Linked DNA regions of Homo sapiens: regions 1, 2, 3 and 4 are each linked to region 5. Evidence: fine-mapped expression QTL. A gene starts in region 5. Each other region holds a variant in brackets. All regions are shown on one strand. Distances are between the middles of the regions.

Region 1 (5,086 bases), 290 kb after region 5:
TGCCAACAGCCGTATTATCATGCCTTAAAATGCTGCCAAATAATTCATGTCCTCTTGCCAACCAGAAGATAGAAAACAGCATCCTCACCTCACCAGAAATAAAATGGGAGGTAGGGGTTAGAGCAGGAGGAAGAGTCACTCTAATGCCTTGAAATCTAAGCTCTTTGTTTTGACTCACGGAAACAAAGATGACGCTACGAGCCGTTTTCTCAGTCCTGAAGTGTTTCCCTGGCATCTGGAATTGCTCTAAGCTTTGCCATCCCTGTGACGTGGGGTAATTCTGCCTCCTCATTTACTTCAGCCTGTTCATGAGGTCTCTTATTTACAATAAAGAACTACCACTCTAATAGCCTCCATTTCCAAGGCTGTGATAGTTCTCAGAGCCTTTTGCCCAAAGTCTAAAAGCCAGTCTTAGCTGTAAAGATTTCCCAATCTCCATCCCTTCCAGGATCCCATCTGCAGCTCTGCCAGCCGGTCACTGGGGCTCATTCATCCCAATGACTGGAGCCCTTTTGGATGCCCCAGAGTCACCTAGAATAAATTCACTCCACATCAAATCCATGGTTTTACTTCCACCCCGACTTCTATATAAAACTGTCAGGGAAACAAGATTCCAGTTCACAGTAAGGTCCACAGTAAATCGGTGACTTATTTCTACCCTTCAAGATCTTCCCCGTCTACCACTTTCTTCTAGAACTTTTATTACTTCTGAAGGAGAAAAGTTGGAGCAGAGTCATCGTGGAACTGATGGACTATGGAATATAAACAGACAAACAAGAAACCTCATATCAAGCCCCGGGAATGTGTTCCATCACCAGGCTGTTGTCAGTAACTGGGTGTGGAAACCCATTATCGTCCCGTGCACCTGGCCACCCTGATTAGGCACTCTTGGTAGCCCCCAAGGCGCACTTGCTGTGAGATGTGTCTGCTGTGGTATCTCATTTGGGGCTGCTTCCTTTGTCTCTGACAAACGCTGATGTGTGATTTAGCACCCACTTCCACGCACCTGAGCACTAACATAGACCTCAGAACCGCCTTAGCCGAGTGAGAGCCCAGAGGCTGAGATGTGTCTAGAGCTTCCTTCCAAGGGGCCATGTCCTGTGTGATTGATCTATTTATTAATTGTTTTGCTTGGGTTCTTCCCACTACTTGATTTTAAAAATGTGTTGGCTCTGTCAATTGCCTCAATATTTTAAGGTGTAGAGCTCTGTGCTTGGCTGATAACCAACTGCTTTTAGGGTTTGCTATACTTGGAAGTGGTCCCTGTTGTGGCTCATGCAATTTAGAGGACTGTAGGTGGGAATACAGGAACTCTTTATTTCCATAAGTGTCCACTAAATGATTGTGAGGGATGTCTTGGAAGCATTATAAGATCCTTGTGAGTCTTTGATAGCTCGAGATCAGGCAATTTCTCCAAGGCCTTTAATCTTTCTTTATTATTCATCCTTATTTAGACTGTTAATTCTTAGTGATTGAAGCCCATTTGGTGAGATGTTTTGCTAGTGTGTTGAGTAACTCTCTCTCTCACTCTGGAACCAAGAGGCCAGACAGAATCAGGATGCCCAGTAGAATGAAGAGACAGAGCTGAGCTAATATTCTGAAGCCTCCTGGGAAGTCAGAAACCTATGACATCACTTGGCCTCTGGACCCACAGGCAACACGAGGGTCTTATCTCTTCAATGGGCAGGTGTGTTCTTGGAGACCAAGACAGAAGACCAAGAGGAGAGCCCCATAGTTTATCTAGTTGAGAGTTTTCTTTGTATTTTATAGAGAAAATAGTAGTAGTGTGAAATATGCATTTGAAGAAGAAGGCTTCCTTCCTCTCAAGTCTGTGATAGAACAACCTGGCTCCCTTTCCCCCGGTAGGTCACCTGAGACAGGCTGCTGAGCAGGTGGAACCTTTGCCGTCTGTCTGGGAGGATGTGCTCGGATCCTCACAATGCGAATTTGGACTTTGGTTGATTGTTTTTCATGTAAAAATTATTCCTATCCTATGGAATGCCTAGCACAGTTCAGTATTGCTGTTTGGTACCACTACGATGAAATAATTTTTTTCTTCCCTCTTCTAAAAAGGATAATTTTAAAAATGAAATAGTTGAGTCTTGGAGGCAGGCCTGAATGGAAATGAATTTTTGGCTCTGTGCCGCCTTGTGAAATGTGTCCAAGAAGCATGAAATTCTATGCTGAGTGCGTGAACTGCTGAGCCACTTGACTCTAACCATATCTAATTTTTTTTGTATTTTCTCTGTTCTTTCTGCTTCCACAAAAGATGGGCCAATCAAGCTTTTCTGTAGGTTGCTCCTCACTGAGTGTGTTGAGTATTTGCCATGTGTTTCTGTTGGTCACACTGTGCCTTGACATCTTTCCACTCCATTTTGCTTTGATCCATTGCATTTTGACTTTGTGTCTGCGGGAAGTCTTGGTGGTGGCTGATGATGATTCCAGGTTTGCCCACACATTCTAGTTGAACCTACATAAGAGACTATTGTCCTTGAAGCAGACATCCTGGATTCATATGCCCTCTTCCATTTCCTCTGAGAAAAGGTTTTTTTTTTTTTTTCTTCTTCTTCTTTTAATTTTTATATTTGTATCTGAGACTTCAACTCTAAGAACAAAAAAAAGGTGCCAGGTGCCCCTTTTCCATTCCCTCCCTCATGCTGGTCTCTGGCCCACTCCAGGGAGCACTCACCCGCCTTTAGCCCGAGCCATGGGGACACAGTGTGTCCAGTGGTCACCTATGTGCTTTCCTCCTCTTCCCACTCCCACCCTGGTTAAAGCCAGGAAAACCTTTCCAAGGAGGAGAACTTTCTTGCCTGTGTTCTGATCTCAGGCTTATTCCTGACCTTGCTAAATAGTTAGAAGGGTGGTTGCAAATGGCAAACTTCTAGCGAGCGTCATGAGCCTACCATGTCTGTGGGAGGAAGGTAGGACGCCATTGGCACCAACCTGTCACCTCAGGTTATGAAAAGACTCCTCTGCGGCCCTTCTGCTGCTCCCCAGATCCCTAACATTGCCGAAGTGCCAGAGGCAATGCTAGGGCAAGTGCTAGAGGAAAGTCTGTTCCTTTGTCCCATCGAGAACATCTGTTTTCCTGGGTAGCGTAGACAAAATGCTGTA[C/T]GGTGAGGAATCTGACACTGTGGCGTAGTGGGGACAAAGGTGTCATGTTTGGTGGTGGAGAGGCCTGGTTTGGCTAAAGCTGTGTCTGTTTTTCTGCATGCTTTTGTGTGGATTTATCAGATGACATTCCTGCTGTTTAAATGGCCTTTGTAACTCTGGAGGAATGAGAGGCACTGTCTGTCTCAGTTAACGCCAACTGAGGCAGGCAGGCAGGCAGCCAGCTACAAGCTTAGTCGTGTGTTGCTTTTATTTTGTTCTGCACTGAAGCGCTGAAGTTCTCCTCCCTGTCTTGCTAATAATGACAAATAGTGAAGCTCCCAAGTAGTGTGGTAGGCTACCCAGAACAGACTGACGAAGCTGAATGTGTATGGCTAAATGGTTTGGGAAGACTTCTTTATGATATATAATAGATAAATATAATTTTAAATGGATTACCTTTTTTGGCATATTCCCGCACAGTGAGAGGAGTTGGCACTCCCCATAGTCCCTTAAAGATACATCCCATTCTCTCTATTAAGAGGTTTTCAGTATTTTTAATGAGTGTGTAGATACCTCCTAGTCAAACACAGCTGACTCCTGGGAAGAACTTGCTTTTCAAAATGAAGGGCAAGGGACTGTGGCTATTTCTGAGTCTGAGAATCCATACAATTCCTTCCCTTCCCTCCCCTCCCCTCCCCTCCCCTCCCCTCCACTCAATTCCCTTCGCCTCCCCTCCCCTCCCTTCCCTTCCCTTCCTTCCCATCTCAAAAAAGAGGAGTTTCCTCCCTTCCTCCCTTCCTTCCTCTTTTTTGAGATGGAGTTTCGCTCTTGTTACCCAGGCTAGAGTGCTATGGCGTGATCTCGGTGCACTGCAACCTCTGCCTCCCGGGTTCAAGCGATTCTCCTGCCTCAGCCTTCCGAGTAGCTAGGATTATAGGTGCACACCACCACAACTGGCTAATTTGTGTATTTTTAGTAGAGACAGGGTTTCACCATGTTGGCCAGGCTGGTCTTGAACTTCTGACCTCAGGTGATCCACCTGCCTTGGCCTCCCAAAGTGCTAGGACTTTGAGCCACCACGCCCAGCAATTTCTTTTCCTTCCCCCCCGCCCCTTTTATTTATTTATTTTTAAGACAGAGTCTTGGTCTGTATGTACCCCTTTTTTCACTCTGTTGTCTTAAACATTTTCTTAGGCTGGGCAAGATGGCTCACGCCTGTAATCCCAGCACTCTGGGAGGCCGAGTGGGGAAGCTCGCTTGAGTTCAGGAGTTTGAGACCAGCCTGGGCAACATGTGAAACTCTGTCTCTACAATAAATATAAAAATTAGCCAGGCATGGTGGCACACAGCTGTGGTTCCAGCTACTTGGAGGCTGAGGTGGGAGGATTGCCCGAGCCTGGGAGGTCAAGGCTGCAGCGAGCCATGATTGCGGCACTGCACTGCAGCCCGGGTGACAGAGCAAGACCTCAAAACCTATTTTCTCATTTAGGCCATTCATATCCCTTAGTCTGCTTGAAATAACCCAGCAGCCAATATATCTTCATTATCGGAATCACCCACAGGAAGTCAGCCTTCATGACGTTGTACTTCTGGTAGTCTAGTCAGCCACTGTCTGCAGTCCCTGATCATCTTCTAAGGTTTGTTTGTAAACATGTGGTCTGCAACCAAGAATTTAGGATGTCCAAATATGGCAAGTTTTTGCCCTCTCTGCTATCTAGTAACATGAGTAATAATCTTTGCTCTCCAACACTTTTTATTTGTCCCAACCATTGTCCTAATATTGTAACTGTAATGCAGCAAATTAGTTGCCTGAGTTAAAAGAAAAAAAAAAATCAACCCTTGGCCCTTAAGACGTCTTTTAATACAATGATGTGTTAGTCAACCAAATGATGACCTCAAATGGCTCTGGCCAAGGCCATGTGTGTTGTTTTCCAGCTTTAAAAACCTACTTGCGCGCCTCTTGCCAACCTTCCTCCAGTGTCAAAGTGTC
Region 2 (5,107 bases), 85 kb after region 5:
AACATTTGAAGTAAAAGACCAAAGCTAGAATCAAATATGTTACTTCTTTCCATTGCCCAGCTGCAGCTTTTACAAATGCATCACAGTTGAAAGTGCCTGAATCTAGAGTTGTCCATGCTGACTTCTAGCCAGGCCAGGCCAGTGGCACTTCTGTGATTTGGAGGAGACTTTCAATGAAATTAGATTGTAGCTGCTATATTTAACTTTTAATTATACACTATTGGGATGTTTTAATTTCTAAAGTGTCACAGCCAAGGCATGAAAATGTGGATCAAGTAGGCAAATGGAATTAAAAATACAACAACATAACAAACTCTAACATCCACCAATTGTGTCTCAGGTAATTAATTAGAGCAGCCTGTAGTTACTAACCTGTGTGGATGTTTCACTGCTCGGGAAGAATAGTCCCAGTGTTTTCTAGATTAGTGGACTGTTCCAAGGAGGGCTGAAATAAGTTTCAACTTGAATTTGTAGATCTGGATAGTCAAACCTTAACAATACAGGCATAGGTTGTCCTCTGTGGGTATCTGTAGTGAATTACAATTCTGTATTAACTTCTACACGATTACTTATCCTAGTCTCATTAGGGAACACGAAATTACCTGAACAAACCATAAGGTAGCATAGACGTTCAAATCTGACATGTGCAAAGTTCCTTAAGCTAATTAGAAAATACACACATTGATCTGTGAATGGATGCCCTTCTGCTCCTTTAGGGCCAGTGATTGAGAGGTGTCTGTTGGAGGTTGGTGTTGAACTTGTGCTTGAAGTCTCCGGATACAAAACTTCACGGTTCTGGTTTAAGCAGAAGTCTTCATTGAATGACATCGATGTGGAGAGAAAATTCCTTGGCTTTCTGTCAGCTGAATCTGCTGATTTGTAAGACTCTTGGGGCAGGTTAACAGCCTTGTTGGTTGTTGTGCTGTGCTGACAGTGGGACCAAGCGGGGATCAGGAAATAGTCTAGGGCATTGCAAGGTTGGATTTGCTTACATTGAGGTGTTCCTGTGATCTGTGCACATCACCCAAGGTGATCAGGGCCTTGAGGCTTAGGCTGAAAGGCTGGCTTTCGAGGCAAAAGATCAGAAGGAAGAAAACATGCTGGCACCTGATGTATATCCCCTTTTGCTCTGCTTCCATCTACGGTTGCTGCCTGCTCCTCTGACATGTAACTCACCTCCTCTGTGCCTCATATTGTTAGAGCTAAATTTCCCACTGAACCCAGACTGTTATTTTTGACCTGCCCTGCCTATTTATTTGTGCACCAGTGAGTGTGTGAGTAAATGCATTATTTTTATTATTATTATTTTTTCTTTTGAGACAGAGTCTTGCTCTGTTTGCCCAGGCTGGAGTGCAGTGTCATGATCTCGGCTCACTGATCTCGCTGATTGAACCTCTGCCTTCTGGGTTTAAGCAATTCTCATGCCTCAGCCTCCCGAGTAGGTGGGACTACAGGTGCTTGCCACCATGCCTGGCTAATTTTTTGTATTTTAGTAGAGATGGGGTTTCACCATGTTGCCCAGGGTGGTCTCGAACTCCTGAGCTCAGATAATCTGCCTGCCTTAGACTCCCAAACTGCTAGGATTACAGGCATAAGCCACTGCACCCAGCAAATGCATTAATTTTTAAAAATTATAGCAGCTCTTTTGGAAGAATTGAAACATAGAAAAATTACCCCTTAGTCCATTGCATTTACATGGTGATTTTCTTTTTCATTTCATTTTTTGGCCACGTTTTTAATTTTTATTTTTTGCTGTGGTAAAACGTTAAGATAAAATTTACCATCCTTGCCATTTTTAAGCATACGGTTCAGTGGCATTAAGTACATTTGTATTGTTGGTGGTGCAATGATCTTCACCGTCTGTGTCCAGAACTTTTCATGTTCCCAAACTGAAACTCTCTACCCATTAAACAGTAACTCTTCATTCCCCCCACCCCTTCCCCTGGTAACCACTGTTCTCCTTCTCAGTCCCCATGAATATGCCTATTCAATGTAACTCATAAGTGGAATCAGGGAAGTTGTGTCCTTTTGTGTCTGGTTGATTTCACTTAGTATAATGTTGGTAAGGTTCATTCTTGTTGTAGCATTTGTCAGAATTTCATTCTTTTTTAAGGCTGAACAGTAATACTCCATTGCATGGATAGAAACCTCATTTTGTTTATCTATGCATCTATTGATGGACATATGAGTTGTTTCTACCTTTAGGTTATTCTACATAATGCTACTATGAACATTGGTTACAAGTATCTGTTTAAGTTTCTGCTTTCAGTACTTTTGAGTATGTAACTGGAAGTGGAGTTGCTGAATCATATGGTAATTCTATGTTTAGCTTTGTGAGGAAGCATCATACTGTTTCCACGGTGTCTGCTGCACCCTAGCAATGCACGAGGGTTCCGAGCCCTCCATATCCTTATATGCTTGCAAAGGATATGTGTCTTTTCCTTTTTTTTTTTTTTTAATAATAGTCATTCTGATGGGTATGAAACAGCATCTCATTGTGGTTTTGATTTGTACTTATGCATAGGTTTTTTAAAACTATGTTTAAACAGAGTGTACTTATTTTTCATCCTTGATCAGTTAATATTTTGTCATGTTCTCTTTTTGCCTTTCAAAGGACTTTTTTTGTTTTTTATTATATATGGACAAATTATAGTTGCAAATACTTAAGGGGGTACAAAGTGATGTAATGATGTTTGAACTCAATGTGGAATGATTAAATCAAGCTACCTAACCTATTCACCTCAAATATTTAACTTTTTTATAACATTTGAGATTTTCTCCTAGTGATATCGAAATGTACA[G/A]TATGCTATTATTGTATTTACCATGCTGTGGAATAGCCCTCAAAAAAGGAAGAAATTCTGTCATTTGCGACAACATGAGTGGAATTAGAAAACATGCTAAGTGAAGTAAGCGAAACACAGAAAGACACCACATGTTCTTACATATGTGGGATCAAAACAATCGAATTCATAGAGGCAGAAAGTAGATGAGTGGTTACCAGGGGCTGGGGGAAATGGTAACGTGATGGTCAAAGGGTACCAAGCCTCAGGAGGAGTAAATTAATTTATTTTTGAGATCTAAAATGACTAATTTTAATAGCTTTTTTCTGGGATCCATCCTGAAGTTACCAGTTTTCTGAAGAAAAGCATTTGAACCAAGAATCCAAATGTGGGCTTCACTACAGAAAGGAGAAACACAGGGCAAAACTGTGTCTAGGCGCCCCTGAGACCACCCCAGGAGGACTGTTGGGCTCCCTGTGACCTGTTTTGGAACTCTGGGGGAGCTTTATCAGGGAATACACTTGCTGGAAGCTGCAGAATATGGGAGAGACTCCGATTGTAACAGGCAAGTTTCTGGTGAGACAAAAATGGATTAAACCAAGACTAATGCCAGGCATCAGAGACAGCAAAATCATCCAATTTATCATCCTTCCCTCAAGGCTGAGAGGTTTTTAAGTAGTTTGGAAAAACTTGGAAAGGGATAGGGAAAGCTTGAGAATAATTTAAAAACTTGTCCCCTGCAGGCCAGTTTGCTAAAAGCCGAGTTTTACCAAAAGGCTAAAGCAGTAATTAAAGCAAAAAGCCTTTGAAAAGGAATCTTGAACTACCCCATTAACAGAGATTACAGGGTATGGTTAGTAAACACCAGAGTATTTAAAAGAGAGTAGTGACACAGAAATGAATGCCTTGTGAAAAGACGAATTTGGTCACCACAAATTATAGAAACTTTCAGAATATACAGAGAATGCCTGTAAGCCAAATGGAACTGTTGGTAGAACTGAGTTAAAAAGTGTTTTCTGTAGAGTTTCATTTGTAAACGTGATTTTTAAGAGTACAAGCTGAATATTACTTAAAATGCCAGTAGGAAAAAAAGTCACACCCCTTTCCTAGTAACTGCTTTTTGAACCTGAAGTTTTTGGAAAGAAGCATCGGTTTCTGAGTATGATCTGAAAGTACTGGCTTTAATAAGGTCTTTCTCCGAGAATTGTTGCTTATCTTACAAGGCAGAAGTGACAAGGATGGTACTCAGCACTGGGGCATTGGGTATCAATGGTGAGCTCATCTCTGTTTCAGGAAGGAGCTGACCAGCGACATCTCATTCCAAAAATTGCCAGATAGATGCAGCACTGAGCTGCCTCCCAGGTCATCCCAACTGATTAATGTGGAGATCTGCAGACTAAAGCAAAGAGAAAAGTGATTTGAATGGACCTGAGGGACTTTATCCTCCACTATGAGGTTGCAGGGGGTGCCTTCTGTGACGGTACCTTTGTAAGTTATTACAAACCTACTGGTGGAAAAACCTTGACTGAGTTCCACTCTGAATCCCAGTTGTAGAAGCATCATGAAATTGAGCACAGGAAAGACTAGGAGTAGGAAGAACTGGGTTTCGGACTCAGATTTGCCTGTTATTCGCCTGAGATGTCTGGCGTTGGTTGCTTGCCTTTCTGCAAGGATTGTAGGGTACCGTCCAACGCATCTTGTATGTGGGGACATTTTGGAAACACATAATACTGTGTAAGCATTGTTATTAGTAGGTAAAATGGTAAAACTGAAATGAAACAACGCCCTGCCCAGCCCCGCCACCCTAACAACTCATTTCCCCTTTAGGCATTTTCTTGTCAGTGGGTACAACACTTCTGTCAGTATCTTTGGCTCTGAGGAAGTCAGTGGAATGAATGACTTCAAGTCTTTGAAAAATAAATTCATGGCTTACTGTGGGCAGTAATTTGTTTTATCCCAAAGCCGGTAATGTGAGGTATTTGAACCAACCACAAATTAATTATCCTACTATATTTGCAGCAGTGTTAGGGTTACAGGTACAACCTAAGCACCATTGCCATATCATTCTGTTTCTGGACAATTAATAACATGCAACCGTGTTGGGACAACAAATCAGTGCTAACCTCTCTGGGGAAACTCAAGTGCAATTGTGAGATGTAAATCTCCATCCACAGGCTCTGCAAAGGGGGAAATATAGGAGTGGCTACTTACTATGTGAAATGCACAGACATGACTAAGAGTAGAGAGTTGTATATTCTGCCTCCCAAAATCCTCCTCATGTGGCTTTCTCCAAAGCCTTCTCAGAGGACACTGAATTCACCTAGGAA
Region 3 (5,107 bases), 98 kb after region 5:
GAAATTTTTATAATACTGGTTTTATCAAATTATGACTAATTATCCCTTCACTTGCAAAATAAAGTGGTTTTCATTTTCTATGTGGAAGTCAAGAGACTGTACTGTGCTTGAGTTTTGGAAATGAGTTCTCACGTTAGTCCATTTTAGAACTTGCGACCAGGCTATCCTTTGTCTCTTCCTTGACAGACAGCAGTGGGTTGCCAACGTGCCCTTGTGTGCACACTCACCTTTTCTCTTCTCTTTATTAATGTTCTGTTATAGGCAAAATGAACATTGTGCTGAAGGTGTGTTAACTCATTTAATTGGAGATGAGTGAAATATCATTTTCTAATGGCCTTCTGCATGCCTTAGAGCCCAGGCCTATGGGGTACGTTGAAGACGTGAACATTGTAATGCAAGTTAATGTTTATATACCTACTTTCACTTCCATTCATCTCTTTCTTTAAAGGTTGATTAAAGATTTATTTCAGGCCATGCACGGTGGCTCACGCCTGTAATCCTAGCATTTTGGGAGGCCGAGGTGGGCGGATTGCCTGAGCTCAGGAGTTCGAGACCACTCTGGGCAACATGGTGAAACCTCGTCTCTACTGAAATACAAAAAATTAGCGGGGCATGGTGGCACGTGCCTGTAGTCCCAGATACTGGGGAGGCTGAGGCACGAGAATTGCTTGAACTCGGGAGGTGGAGGTTGCAGTGAGCCAAGATCATGCCACTGCACTCCAGCCTGGGTGACAGAGTGAGACTTGGTCTCGAAAATATATATATATATATGTTTATTTCAGCAAATTCTGGAATTATGCCCTCCCCTCCCCCCTTTTTATTTTTGCTGATTGATGTTTAAAAGTGGACCATTAAAAAATGTAATTCCAAGATTGCCTTGCATCTGTTTTGAATGATTGTGTTTTGCTTTACAAGGGGCAGAATGACTTTTGGGGCCAAATGCTCAGCTGACTTTTTGTTCGCTGTTTTCTGCAGGGATCTTGAGAATAATGGTTCTTTTTAAGGCCAATTGTTACTTTCTTTCTCACACAAAGGAAAAAAGAGACTATCTTTAGGAAACACTGCTTTAAATCATCTTCCTTGAATATTAATTCTCTGTTGCTTCCTCCAAAAATGGAGAAAATAATCCCTACCCTCATAGGCTTATTATAAGGCTCAATTATGATAATGGTGTGAAAACTTTGAAAATTAGACTTCAGAGAAATTGAGTTAATCTGGGATTATTTATCAATGTCTTAGTAACCAAAAGTTTAAAATGTGTTTTGTTTACCAACTGGTTGCATGTACATGGTTAATCCAAAAGGCTCAGCTTTTCAGCAAATGGAAAAAGATTAACTTCTTTATGGATCACATTATGAGATGAAACACATTTCATTCTAGCTGCTGAAAAAATAGCAACATGTTTTTGAAACCATTGTGATTTTGTATTGCAGTCACTAAAACATCAAATATATCATTTTTATGTTAAAGTGCCCTAATTTGTGTTGTTACATAAAACTTGGAGTACCTTGACCAAATAGAAGAAATTAATGTGCCGCGTGTCTGTTTTAAAGATGAAATCTGAGCCCAGTGTGAGGCTCATGCCTGTAATCCCAGCACTTTGGGAGGCTGAGGCAGGAAGATTGCTTGAGTCCAGGAGTTGGAGACCAGCCCGGGCAACATAGGGAGACCTCATCTCTACAAAAAATAAAAAATAGACAGACATGGTGGCACATGCGTGTAGTCCCAGCTTCTTGGGAGGCTGAGCTGGGACAATTGCTTGAGCCAGAGAGGTCAAGGCTGCAGTGAGCTGTGATCACACCACTGCACTCCTGGTCTGGGCAACAGAGTGAAACCCTATCTTTAAAAAAAAAAAAAAAAAAAAGATTTGAAAATTTAAATCTTGAGAAGGATTCTGAAGATTTTTGAGAAAATATTTTATTCCTCTCTCTGTTATCTGTGTGTATGTGTATATACACATACAATTTTATGAAATGTGGTTTATGTGATTGTTTTCAGTATTTGGCTAATATCTATGTAAAAGAAAAATGGGCCCACAGGCTGAATATGTGTTTTCTCCTCATAAATAGGGGACTGGTGGTTGGTTGCATTTCTTTTTTTTTTTAACAGTCTCAGATGATTCTGTCTTCATTTCCACTTTGCTCCCATTCTGGCATTGCCTGTGTGGATTGAGCATGTGAAAGCTTGACATCATGATTCAATCATTCTCTGATTTTGCAATAATTCAAAGCAGAGCGGAAGCATTGTGAAAGAATCATGCCAGTTTTCTTAAGGTCTGATACACCCATCCTAATTTACAGTATTGTTCTAAAGATGCACCAGGAAACACACATGCA[T/C]GCACACACACACCCTAGTGAGACATCTGAGGGGATTTGGCTGCCTCCCGTTCCTTTCCTGTCTCCTCCCTTTGTTTCCAGATGCATCAGCAGATGGCCGTCCAAAGCTCTAAATTTGTACCTTGTGTGACCTTTAGCCTGGAGAAAGGCAAATTTATTCTGAGGATAGACTTCCCTGCCATTGCAAGTAGACCTTCTGTCAGTTGTTATAAATAAACTCAAGTCTTTGGATGTTCCTTCTGAGGTTGAATTGGCATAGGGGGCCGTTAATTAAACTGTAGCCTTTCTTGGGACTCTAACAAATTTTAAAGATGAGTAAGACAACATTGGAGGTACTCCCTGATAGTCCTGCAGTGTAGGATAATACAGGAGAAGCTCCAGGATCCATCTCCTGAGAGCTGGCTTTGCAGCGTAGGATAATACAGGAGAAGCTCCAGGATTCATTTCCTGAGAGCTGGCTTCAAAAGAAGTTTTCAGGTTGCATGGCAGGCATTGACATGGACTTTGGAGTCAGGCAGACCCGGGCTTGAGTTCTGCCTCTGCTCTATACTAGCAGCGCTTACCTCATGGAGCTGTTAGCATTAAATGAGGAGGTATTTATCTATCTGTCATTTCCCAGAACTGATCCAGGACCTAATAGGCGCTGAATAAATGGTAGGCCACTTAATTTTATATCACAAGAGCACATTCTTAAATCTTTATTCAAGGACAGGAGGCCCTGGAACTAACTAATGAAGGAAAGGGAAATTGCTGTGTGCCATCAAGCAGAGGATCAGAAAAAGAATATGAGAATAATTTTATTAGCACTTACAATTCACTGCGTTTCAACTATTGCAAAATAACAGTATGCAAGAGTGTAGGTTGTCTTACAGAAATGATGTGCTCTTGTTTGTGGCAGCTCATTTTAGGGGAGAAGTCATCTAGGTTACCATGTGTTTGTAGAGCAGAAGACTTAAAAGTGGACAAAGGAAGTTGGCATTATTCTGGAGGATAGAAAATCAACCCAACTTCTCTTCTCTTCCCACCACTGGACTCTGGGTGAGCTTGAGAATGGGAAGTCTTTTCTGTTGCCTAGTGAGTCAACTCTTAATGTAGTCTACCGTGGACATCAGGGTTGGTCTGAATGTAAAGTTGCATGCCCCTGGACACAGTGCTTGGGTGAGAGATGACAGAGGAACAGCTGGACAAAGTAAATGGGGTGAGAATAATGGCCTGGAGGTCCTTGGGGAAAACTTGTCACCACCTTAGGTTGGCTGTGACTATTTACTAATATGAGCTGTGATCAGAGGCTGAGGGATAAAGCAGGCCAACATTTCCTTTTCTTCTTATTACTGATTTCTTCTAGTTCTTCCCCCATAATTGGCCCCAACCTTCTAAAGAAAAGGCTCTGCAGACAGCAGTGGGGGAAAATCAGTCTGATGTAGTCTGGAGAAAATCTTTGTCCTGCCCTGTTTTCCTGTAGCTTTGAAAATCTCAAATGCAAGGCCAAACAACGAATTATTATTAACGTGATAGAGGAAACTGGTACTATTAATGTCATGCAAGGAGAAAGCCCATTTTGAGTAGAAACAGAAGGACATTTATGAGGGGAAAGTTGGCTGGGTAGGGCAAAACTGAGTAGTAGAAAATTTAACTGTAATTATTCCATTGAATTTTTTTAGAAGGACTCTTCAAATTATTGAAAGTTGCTTAGTAATTAGCATAGTAACCATTTACAAAATACACTCTGACCTAGAGCAACAGGGAAGGGAGTCAGAGAGACAAGTTTTGTGCAGACTGTCAGCTACAGCAGGAAAGTATGCACGGTGAATTTCCACGTTAGGTCAGGCCCATGTAAAATTTACAAATGGCAGGGGGTATGGAGGAATAAAGGCATTAGCATTGCATATGACCTGGTGGCCCTTTGAAAACTGTGTTTGGGGTTTATGTTTCTAGTTGCAGCTAAATCTGAATTTGAGGTTTTAATCCTTTTGAACCAAGCTAGGTCTAAGAATTAGACATTTGATCTCATGCATCTTATCCAGCACACAAAAACTTGAGTGCTTCCTTGGCTTGGACATAAGCTGGATCCCAGCTGGCCCCTGATTTTAGTTTCTGTGAAGTGATTAGTGATTAGGTGGCACCATGGTAAGGCAGGGTGCTGTGGTGGCAGGGTCTTCCCCCCATGCAGAAGGGCCCCTGCAGAACACAGCAGTAAGTTTTTTAACTGGCCTACTCCTGCTTGCCCCAGAGGGCTGAGAATTGGTTTTTAGATAGCTGATTTGTTTGTTATTGGCTCTAATTAGGCAGGTAGGCTTAGCTCCTTTAATTATTCATGCTACTTTGCGGAAGCTTAAGCTACTTATTCAGAGTTCCAGGGCCAGGACTTGGGTGGGAATTCTTTGGCAGGGCCAGCTGCAGAATTAGCATTAATGTGATACTAATCCCTGGGATGGCCCCTCAGAGCAGTGTACCCAAATGTTTGTTTTTCACATCTAGAGTCCACAAACATGTGCTCAGTAATGTCCAGCAGGCTCTAGCACTCAACATCTAGATGGCATGGTTTATGGCCAAGGAGCTTTGGAGCATTGGTCAAAGTCTCAAGCAGAGAGATCAGAGATACAGTCTAGAAGGTATTCTTATATTTAATCTCTCTCTGGAGGCATTGGACTCATATGGCCTAAATTTTTTGACTCAGATACCTGTACATACATGTACACCCCTCACCTTGCTCTCTTCACACACTTGTTTAAGGGAAAATGAGGCCAGGCATGGTGGCTCACTGCTGTAAT
Region 4 (5,107 bases), 280 kb after region 5:
GTGGTCTTCTATAACGGGTTTTTATCATTTAACATGTTTTCAAGATCACGTTGTAACATGTGTTGGTAATTTATTGGTTTTTATGGTTTCATAATATTCCATTGTTTGGATATACCACATTTTGTTTATCGATTAATGGACATTGGCTTCTTTCTACTTTTTGGTTGTTATTAATGATGTTACTCTGAACATCTGTGTAAAGATTTTTATGTGGACGTATATTTTCATTTCTCTTAACTGTATATCTAGAAGCGGAATCGCTGGGTCATATGATAATGCTGTGTTTATCATTTTGAGTAAAAGTCACACTTTTTAAAGTGGCCACCCTTTTTTACATTACCACCAGCAATGGATGAGGGTTTTAATTTCTCCATATCCTTCCCAACTTTTGTTACTGTATTTCTTTTTTATTATAGCCATCTGAGTGGGTGCGAAGTGGTGTCTTATTGTGGTACCTCTGTGACTTTTGAATTTAAAAATAAGTATAAAATATTTTTAAAGAGGCCGGGCGCAGTGGGTCATGCCTGTAATCCCAGCACTTTGGGAGGCCCAGGCCGGCGGATCACGAGGTCAGGTGTTTGAGACCAGCCTGGCCAGCATGGTGAAACCCCATCTCTACTAAAAATACAAAAATTAGCTGGGCGTGGTGGCACCTGCCTGTAATCCCAGCTACTCGGGAGGCCGAGGCAGGAGAATCGCCTGAACCCAGGAGGCGGAGGTTGCAGTGAGCCGAGATCATGCCACTGCACTCCAGTCTGGGCGACAGAGCAAGACTCCATTTCCAAAAAAAACCATATATATATTTTTAAAGAACCAATGAAATGAAGGAAAAGGAAATCGGTAAGTGAGCCTTTTTTATGAAATTGAAAGCACATGTCTGCAGTTAAACTGAGAAAAAAGTTTGGAGCCCATCTAACCCCTTGACAATTTCATTTCAGGTGGCTTCTATGCAGTTTATTAATATTGTAGTCCATTCAGTAGAAGATATGAATTTCAGAGTTCACCTGCAGTATGAATTTACCAAATTAGGCCTGGACGAATACTTGGACGTGAGTATAGCTGTGACCTTTGGCTCCAATATAAGAATTGACTTATTATTGCCTGCCCTCAAAGGTACGCTTCCATAGCAGCTAAAGAATGCCTAAAGCTCTATGCAGTCAACTACTGTAGTGCTAGTTAAAGGGAACTGAGCTGAGTGATGTACTCTGCCAGAGATGCTGGATTCTTGCAGGGCTCCTGGGATCTCAGGTCATCTTCTGCTAGCAGCCTTTTAGTACGGGAGTCAGATAACCTCTTGCAGCCTTGCTGCAGCTTTCCTCTCCTTTTGAGCTTCATCTGGGTCAAGTCTCATTGCATCCTTCATCTGGGCTATTGGGCAATTTGTGTTCTTGGTTACTCCGGGGACCCCATCTGGGCAGAGAAAGTCAAGCCAAGACTGTAGAGTGATGAGTCAGTGCTTAGAGCATAAAAAAAAAATAATGAGGAAATGGACACCAGAGACTTCCTCCTGAAGCTGCTAAATTCTGCTTCAAGTGTTTGTGGCTTTAGAAGTTCCACTTTTAGTTCTTAGGAGAAGGAGGTTTAAAGTTTCCCTTTTTCTCACTCCCTTGCAGAAGAGTTTAGCCAGTTCCCTGAAGTTCTTCAGTTAAGAAACAGAAACTTGTGAAAATCAGAAATGGTCTTGAAAAGGCTGATGGCTCACACCTGTAATTCCAGCACTTTGGGAGGCTGAGGTGGAGGATCACTTGAGCCTAGGAGTTCAAGACCAGGCTAGGCAACATAGTGAGACCCCATCTATACAAAACACCAAAAAATTAGCCAGGTGTGGTGGTATGTGCCCGTGGCCCCAGCTGCTTGGGAAGCTGAAGTGGGGGGATCATTGGAGTCCAGGATTTCTAGGCTGCAACAAGCTGTGATTGCACCACTGCACTCCAGCTTGGGTGGCAGAGCGAGACCCTGTGTCTAAAACGGAAAAGAAGTGGACCTGAGGATCCAGGCAGTTTTGTTTTCCCTTTTGTATAGGAATGGTCTAGTGATAGAGCAAGAATTGTTGACCTCAATTTCCTTCCTTTTTTTTGAGACAGGGTTTCACTTTGTCAACCAGGCTGGAGTGCAGTGGTGCAATCTTGGCTCACTGCAACCTCTGCTTCCTGGGTTCAAG[C/T]GATTCTCATGCCTCAGCCTCCTGAATAGCTGGGATTACAGGCACTATGCCTGGCTAATTTTTGTATTTTTAGTAGAGACTGGGTTTCACCATGTTGGCTAGGCTAGTCTCATACTCCTGCCTCAAGTAATGCACCCAGCCGGTGACCTGAATTTCAAGCCTGTTTCCAGCTGTGAAGAATATAGAAGTACTTCCTTTGGGCATCTCAGGAATTCAGTTGCCCATCTTTGTTAGAGATAAACCCAAGGGATTGCACAGACTGTACCCTCAGTTTATTAGGAGACGGAATCACAGAGGTGGTTACTCTCAACCTGAAGGCCTTGCTTCCTAGACTGGCTGGGCTGCCCTTGAATAGATGGGCCTACTGTTGTCTAAAGACTACTCAGGGAGAGGCGTAATAGATTTCCATTAAAATGTTGTTTGAATTGCTTTCCTTTTTATTTAAAGGCTCATTTATATCACTGGCAGAATATTGTACAGAAAGACTCTTTCTTACTTTGAGATCAAGGTTTGTCTATCCCTTTTTCTCCTATGCTCTAAAAGTATCAGTATTTGAACAAAAATTGGATGTATAAATTCCTAGCGGTGTTTTGGGTTTGGTTTTGTGGTGTCTGAGCAGAGCTTGTTTATGCTGTAGAATATAACGGCAGGTACCCACTTATCACTGAACACCTGTTATTCATTGTGAATCTCATGAAAAATCCCATTAAGCTGCTTCTCCTTTTGTTCTAGCCTTTGCCCTTATTTAGAAGCCATTCTCACTTGTGACTCATAAATGAAAACAGAACACTCTCTCTTCAGAATAAGCTGTATTGTAGAATTCCAGATTAAACCTAGGGGAAAATCCATTTTTCTGAAAATTTATGTAGAGTGGAATTTCTCTTAAAAATGTAAGATTTTTTGTCAAAACTCTGTATTTCTTTAACTTCATCATGTGTTGACTCTGGAACCTAATAGAGGTGGTTAGAAGAGTAATGTAAATGTATGCTATATAAATGCTTCACTAGTTTACAAAAACCCAGCCTTGTAAGTAGCCATTGATTTGTTCAATAAATGTTGATTGGCATCATCCATGCACCAGGTATTATTCTAATCACTCATCTGTTCCCCAGGGAAAGTCATGACTTATGTTACTTGTAGGGAAGATTCACTGATTTATTTGACCTCTAATTTCCAGAGCTAGCTGAGTCCCTGCAGGATGCCTAGTTTGGGAGGCAGTGAATTGGGGAAAGCTTTCTGATCTGCCTTGGGGAGCCCTGAGCTGTTCATGCTGTATACTGACTTAGGGAGGGATGTGTGGAGGTTGGGCTCTAGCAATTTGTGCTAAAATAATCCCCAAGGCTAAGTATAAACTCTGTCAGTGTCTGCCCCACCTCTCGCCTAACCTTCTTCCCCTACTGGAACCACTGTAACTAACCAGGTAAGATACCAAACACTCCAGTCTTTTCCACTACACAGATACCCCTCAGGTTTTATGTGGCCATGACTATAACCTGTTAAAGCTGCTTTTAATTTTTCTGTTGTCCCAATTTCATGTATATCAAAATGTTTTACATAGGAATATAACTACATGGGGCAGTAAGGATTTGGGGGAAAATGTGTGTGCATTTGGGAGAGCGTATTCACCCGAAAGTCATCTGATGATACTGCTTAGGCAGTCACTCCATAATTCTCTTAAGGAAGATGACATGTTAAGCTCTCTTGGAAAGGGCTGGACTATTTGTCGAAAAGAAAACACATAGACTGGCTGGGTGTGGTGGCTCACGCCTGTAATCCCAGCACTTTGGGAGGCTGAGCCGGGTGGATCACGAGGTCAGGAGATCGAGACCATCCTGGCCAACAGGGTGAAACCCCGTCTCTACTAAAAATACAAAAATTAGCTGGGTGTGGTGGCGCGTGCCTGTAATCCCAGCTACTTGGGAGGCTGAGACACGAGAATCGCTTGAACCCAGGAGGTGAAGGTTGCAGTGAGCTGAAATCATACCATTCCACTCCAGCCTGGGTGACAGAGTGAAACTCCATCTCAAAACAAAACAAAACAAAACAAAAAACAAAAAAGACAGACTCTTAGGAAATGATGTTCTATTTCCATAGATGAGCTAACACCACGTTCTCTCCTATTCTGGTTTTTAGAAGCTGAAACACACTGAGAGTGACAAGCTTCAAGTCCAGATCCAGGCTTACCTGGACAATGTTTTTGATGTAGGAGCTCTACTGGAAGATGCTGAAACTAAGAATGCTGCCTTGGAGAGGGTGGAAGAACTGGAAGAAAACATTTCTCATGTAACTATATCTCAGAAAAGGAAAAATTGCTTACATTTCAGCTGGTTGCAAAGCAGAATTAATGTCAGCTTTTATGGTGGTAAATTTAAGGATTTGGAGTATAGGAATAGGCCATACCCTGCAAGAGAGAGCTATCAGAAGCTGTTCTGTGTTTTTTCCAAAAAGCAGATGTGTTATGTAAAATGAAATAGAATCTGTTGCTTTGCTTTAGCTCACTTACCTGCTCAGTTTCTGCTGAGGTGCATTTCCTGGCAGTCTTGCTTACAGGCTCAAGCAGAGTGGGGGTGTTTGATGATTGGCATTACGTAAATGATTAGAGGGAAATTAAATATGAGAATTTGGCCTGAGGCGAAGAGGTATCTTCTTATCAACTATGTCCACACAAACCCATGGACAGGATTAGCTGGTGTCTCTGTGATGCATGTCTGAACATTCCTGTCTTACGGTACTCAAATTCTTAATAGAGTCATTTCAACAATAGGCATTTTCAAGGACATCGGTGTGCTTTCTCATATATCCTGTTCTTTGAAGAATGTCCTCAGTATCGTTGTCAGCTCTATCACAGGACAGGGTCTCATTTTTCTTTGAGGGATTTTTCTTGCCATAGACTGATTTGAATATGACTCTAAGGGCCTTTAGAGATTATTTGTTCATTCATTAACC
Region 5 (5,107 bases):
CACCAAAAATTTAAAAAAATTTTTGCATATTTTTAAACATTTTAAGCCATTAGGTTTTAAAGGTAGTTTTGTTACATCACATAGATAATAGGTAAAAATATCACTTTATAGTACTTACGATTTGCAAAATATAGTATCTTCTGAGTCAGGGATCAGCAAACATTTTCTGTAAAGGGCCTGATAGTAAAAACTTCAGGCTTTGAGGGCCATATGGTCTATGTCATATCAACTCAACTCCATCCTTGCAGTGCAAAAGCAGCTATAGATAGTAGGTAAATAAATGGTTTTACTGTGTTCCGATAAAACTATTTATAAGAGTAGGCAGATGAATGGATTTGGTTTACAGGCATAGTTTTCTGAATTCTGTTCTAAGTTGACAGTCTAGAAGAAGGTATATAATTCTCATCTCATAGTATGCATCCAATTATTAATAATTAGCTTCTTTGTTGTCTTCAGAAAATTCTGTATGGGAAGAAATCTTGCAGGCTTTGTTATAAAGAATATCAAACTGGCACAGTGGCTCACACCTGTAAACCCAACACTTTGGGAGGCCAAGGCAGGAGGATAGCTGGCAGCCAGGAATTTGAGACCAGCCTGGGCAACAGTGAGATCCCATCTCTCTTTCCCATGATTCTTCCCTTAGGGTAGGCGTTCTGCATGCATGGTGCTCTTCTTACCCTGGGGAATTGAGCACACACAGTGTGTTTAGGAAGTTGTATGCATGCCCATACAACTGGCTTTCTTTTTCTTTTCTTTTTTTTTCCAGTGGAGTGTACCTGGAAGATCATACTTCGCCATTTTTGTCTCTTAATAATTTTGCATTTTTCTTAGAGATGGAGTTTCTCCATGTTGCCAGGCTGGTCTTAAACTCCTGGGCTCAAGCAATACTCCTGCCTTGGCCTCCCAAACTGCTGGGCTTACAGGTGTGAGCCACTATGCCCGGCCCAGACATTTTCTTTTTTGCCAATATTTTGCACATGAGCTGTAACAAATCATATATAATAATAATAATAAATGGAATATACATTTTTAAATGATTGCTTGATTTTAATTCTGTGGGGAGGAAGAGTGCTACAATTAAGGTAATAGAAATGTCTTTTCTTTCCTTTCCCTCCATGCCGTCTCCCCGCAAAGAATTTCCTAAGATTTTGATGGATTCTTATAGAAATTGTACAAGCCTATGGAGTGTTTATTTCTCCTCTTAATAATCACAAATAACAACCAAATATTAGAGATTCCAAACATTGAAATGGCAGGAAAGTTCTTTTGGTTCATAGATTTGCACACTTTTTCCTTGGCTTCCCTCGAAGTGTGAGCTTATGAGAGAGACTAGATGTGATAAGACGTAAGGGGAGAAAAAGGTCTTGGTTACTGGCAGAAATATAGCCGCAGGGAGACATAAATGTAATCAAAAAGGCTTTCTCAACTGCAGAAAAGAATTCCAGCCTTTTTTATCCAGATGGGCAACCCTCTGGGTGGGCTGATTTTGTGAGTCAATCAGATCCAAAGTATATGTCTAGAGATTACAAGGAAATAAATACATTTGTGGGTCAGAAATGTTTCACCTGGTCCGAACTGCTTTCTTTCTCTCTCATTTTCATTAGTTTGGAGTGTGTGTGTATCTAAACCGCCCTGCTTTTCTCTCAGATCAGTAACACATTTGCTATTAACTTTGATACAACACTGCTTTAGAAATACAGGTTACAGTTATTCAGAATTTTAAGTTGAATTTATTTATACTGTCTCCATTCTTTAAAGACTAGAAGTGGTTTAATAGAACATACATGATGTATTTGTGTGTATTTGTGTCATATGCTTTTGGAAAAAGTCACTTGTCAATTCCACAAATAGTTCTTGGGCGTCTACTATGTTTAAAGTATCTTGAAGTTTATAAAGATGAATGAAATGTCCTTGATTGAATCTTGGTGTACTACCTTGTCCAGAAACACTTGCTATTTACTAAAAGGATAACAACCTTACCTGCATATCAAAATCACCTGGGGAGCTTGTTGAAAATACACCGGCCCAGGCTTCGGCTCTCAGCTTAGGGAGATTCTGATAATACGCAGAGCCCAAGGTGTGTGTAGTTTTAACAAAAAGCTTCCCAAGCGAATCTGATACACATCTAGGATTAAGAAACACTGCTTTAAACTAAGAAAGGACTAACTGCAGAAGTTCAGCCACAAGTCAACCAGATGTATGCCCTTAACATTCACATGAGCAGTTGGCTAAAGTCTCTTATAAGGCTATTTCTATTTCCGAGGTTTCAGAACGGGTAGTTATAGTCTGAAATACACCCCAGAGGACAGAGTCAGGTCCAATCTTTTCTGTAAGACACCTTGCTCAAGACTGCTGTGAAGGAATAAGAGAGCTGCAGCCAAAGATCATCCCAAAGTCTCCCAGAACACTCTATCATTATATCCATCTCACATGAAATATGGGTGTGTACATTTTTTCCTTCACTAGATTGGCAAGTATTCCAGCGCAGGGCAAATCTCTTTTTTCTCCCACCAAGGAACACAATATCCCATACATAATAGGTGTTTGACAGGTTTTTTTTTTAAATTGAATTGAATCCTTACCTAGCTCCTAGGGTCTGACTATATATACCCATAAATTATACATCTGTTTATAAAACATTTCAATCACACCAAAGAACATATATATGGAAGAAAGAACGATAAACAAGCACCCATGGACCCACCCCCCCGTTTATGAAACAGAACTTTGCCAGTGCTTTCGAAGTTCCTTACTGAACTAGATCTTTTAAAAACAGCAACGATTTTCTGAATTTTAATCAGAAGGCATGCATTCCTTCATTCATTGATTCGATTCCGTCATGGTCAGACCCGCCTACCAAGTGTCAACATGATATACACGATGTAAGTATTCCACTGTTGGGGTGAGGAGGGTCAAAAGTGACAATATGCTATCTCCAGAGACTACGGATCGCCTTTGCTGCAAATGGTCCCAACCCGGCCTGGCGCTCTAGAGCAGGCGTGGTTTCTGCGCGCGGACACTTTGGAGAGAAACTACGCGTCCCGGCAGTCCGCGGGGCGAGTGGGCGGAGCCGGGCCGGGGGCGGGGGCCGGGCGCCGGGCGAGAGGTGGCATTGTGTAGGGGAGCGCGGAGCTGCATTTGTCTGCTCCAGGTGCTAGCCAGGCAGGCGCAGCCGTGGCCGGCTAGGGCTGGAAGTGTCAGCGGCGGCCGCGGGCCCGGCAGAAGGCCGAGTAGGAGGGACCACGCGCCGGGGGCCGCGATCTCTGGCAGGGGGCGGTGTGCCAGCGGAGCACCATGCACATAGGCGCCCAGCGCCCCAACTACCCCTCCCGAGGAAAAGAGGCCGGGGCCGCGCTGGGGCGGCGGAGAGCATGAGGGAGGCCGGGGGGCGGCTCGGCTTGGAGCGCTGCTAGGGAGCGGTGCGCGCCGCACACCCGCCTGGGCGCGGCGGAGGGCGGGGAGCCGGGCAGGTCGCGCCTGCGGGCGGCAGCCGACCGCCGGGAGCTGTTCTGATTTCCGACGCGCACGCTAGGGGCCCGGAGCAGCCCCCGGCCCCGGCGCGCCGCCGACATGGGCAACGCAGGGAGCATGGATTCGCAGCAGACCGATTTCAGGGCGCACAACGTGCCTTTGAAGCTGCCGATGCCAGAGCCAGGTGAACTGGAGGAGCGATTTGCCATCGTGCTGGTAAGTGCGCGGCGGCGGTCGGGCGCGGGGACCCGGGGCCCCGGGCCGGGCGGCGCAGCTGACCCCCGCCCCTCCCCTTCACCCCGTGCCGGGAGCGAGCCTCCATTCCCGAGGGGGAGGCTCCCGCTTTCCCCTTTGTGGCCCCCCAGCACTCCTCTTCACCCCCCTGGCAGTCCCCCGCGCTCAGTCTCTCGGGGTCCCGGGATGGGGATGGGGGCTCAGGGCCGGCTGCCCAACCAGCCTCGAACCCATTGTCTGGCTGGAGAGGCACCTCACGGCGCGTGTGCCCGGGAGGTGCGGCGTGGGCGTGAAGAGAAGGTGGCGCGGGCTGGGAGGAGGAGGTGGCGAGCCGCTTAGGCTTTTTTTTTAAAAAAAACAAAACAAAACAAAACAAAACAAAACACCCTGAGCCCCTGCGGACCATCCCTCGGGCGGCCAGCCCGGGACCTGCGAAGTCCCCGGCAGATGGGGCGCATGTGGCCGGCCGCGGGCGCCGCGCCGGGCGGTGAGCGGAGGCGAACTTGGAGGGCTCACGTCGCGGCTTGGCCAAGGGGAGCTTCCCCGAAAGGGAAAGCGGAGACCCACAGCAGTGCGGCGCCCCGGCCCTTGGCGAGGAGCAGGGGCATCTGAAACCCAGGCCGGGGAGAACCTCAGCGCGTTCCCTCTAGACTTAAATCTTAAACCACAAAAATGTGGAGTTTTGCGGGGACGTGTTGCGAGCTGTCCTGACTGCACGGGCGACCCCTCCCCTCCTCTTGCACGCCCAGCCAGGTCCCCCGCTCCCTCCTGCATTCCGCTTCTCCCAGCTTTCCAGCTCCTCAAATCCAGGACTCTGAAAACTCCCCTCTTTCTCCCTTTCCTGCTGGGACAGTGTCTGGGCCCCTCCCAGCCGAGGCTTGTGCTGTGAGCTGCAGAGGGTGTGGCGGCTTGCCCCAGCCAGGATCTGGACTGCTGTTGGTCCCCCAGACTACCAGTTTTAGTGTCCCAGCCTCTTCTAAGGGATGTTGGGAGGGACACACACAGGCGAGATTGGGCTCATTCCTACTCCTGACACTTGGACACTTCTCTTTTCCTAGTTGGTTACCTCTAAACTCCACAAGACTAGGCAGCAAGGGAAACTCGTGATCCGGGCAGCCAACGATTGTGCCTGCCTGCGGGTTTTCTTTTCTTCTTTTGTTTTCATGAAAACTTAGAACTTTGGCAGAGGACTCGAGTTCTAGATCAAAAATCGGTTTTCTGAGGTGTGCTCAGCTACAGGACGTTCAAATTGCCTGCCTTCAGGCCTTGAAAAAGGAATGGTTTGGTATGGGAAGTGATGTTCTGGATGGCAGGTTAGCTGTGTGCTCTTTGGGAGAACTGAGCTCTCTCTCCCGCCACCTGGAAACTCTGGTGTGGCCGTCGGGGAGACAGATGAGGTTGC

Which allele goes with the higher level. Positions count from the first base shown, and alleles are read on the strand shown. Sizes are in standard deviations (SD) of each study's normalised expression. Not every link is listed here.
For the expression in minor salivary gland of the gene that starts at base 3,141 in region 5, G is the low allele of the variant in region 2 and A is the other (moderate effect, 0.47 SD a copy in GTEx).
For the expression in fibroblasts of the gene that starts at base 3,141 in region 5, C is the high allele of the variant in region 3 and T is the other (moderate effect, 0.40 SD a copy in GTEx).

The links. PIP is the estimated chance that this variant, and not a neighbour inherited with it, causes the effect.
Region 1: its variant is fine-mapped to the expression of FMNL2 in whole blood (TOPMed, PIP 0.91).
Region 2: its variant is fine-mapped to the expression of FMNL2 in minor salivary gland (GTEx, PIP 0.91).
Region 3: its variant is fine-mapped to the expression of FMNL2 in fibroblasts (GTEx, PIP above 0.99).
Region 4: its variant is fine-mapped to the expression of FMNL2 in whole blood (TOPMed, PIP 0.99).

The regions. Positions count from the first base shown.
Region 1 is chr2:152,620,268-152,625,353 of GRCh38, forward strand. The region is part of intron 15 of FMNL2 (formin like 2); the gene reads left to right. Among named protein-coding and RNA genes, the nearest start is that of PRPF40A, 95 kb to the right of the region's middle. The variant C/T (reference allele first, on the strand shown) is at 3,118.
Region 2 is chr2:152,416,535-152,421,641 of GRCh38, forward strand. All of the region lies in intron 1 of FMNL2 (formin like 2), which reads left to right. Among named protein-coding and RNA genes, the nearest start is that of FMNL2, 84 kb to the left of the region's middle. The variant G/A (reference allele first, on the strand shown) is at 2,802.
Region 3 is chr2:152,430,122-152,435,228 of GRCh38, forward strand. All of the region lies in intron 1 of FMNL2 (formin like 2), which reads left to right. Among named protein-coding and RNA genes, the nearest start is that of FMNL2, 98 kb to the left of the region's middle. The variant T/C (reference allele first, on the strand shown) is at 2,337.
Region 4 is chr2:152,610,557-152,615,663 of GRCh38, forward strand. FMNL2 (formin like 2) reads left to right here. Exons shown (of 26, transcript NM_052905.4): 11 at 939-1,049; 12 at 4,295-4,444. Among named protein-coding and RNA genes, the nearest start is that of PRPF40A, 100 kb to the right of the region's middle. RefSeq lists an enhancer at 1,746-1,825. The variant C/T (reference allele first, on the strand shown) is at 2,162.
Region 5 is chr2:152,332,034-152,337,140 of GRCh38, forward strand. FMNL2 (formin like 2) reads left to right here and starts at 3,141. Exons shown (of 26, transcript NM_052905.4): 1 at 3,141-3,687. The coding sequence starts at 3,571. RefSeq lists silencers at 2,941-3,590, 4,101-4,200.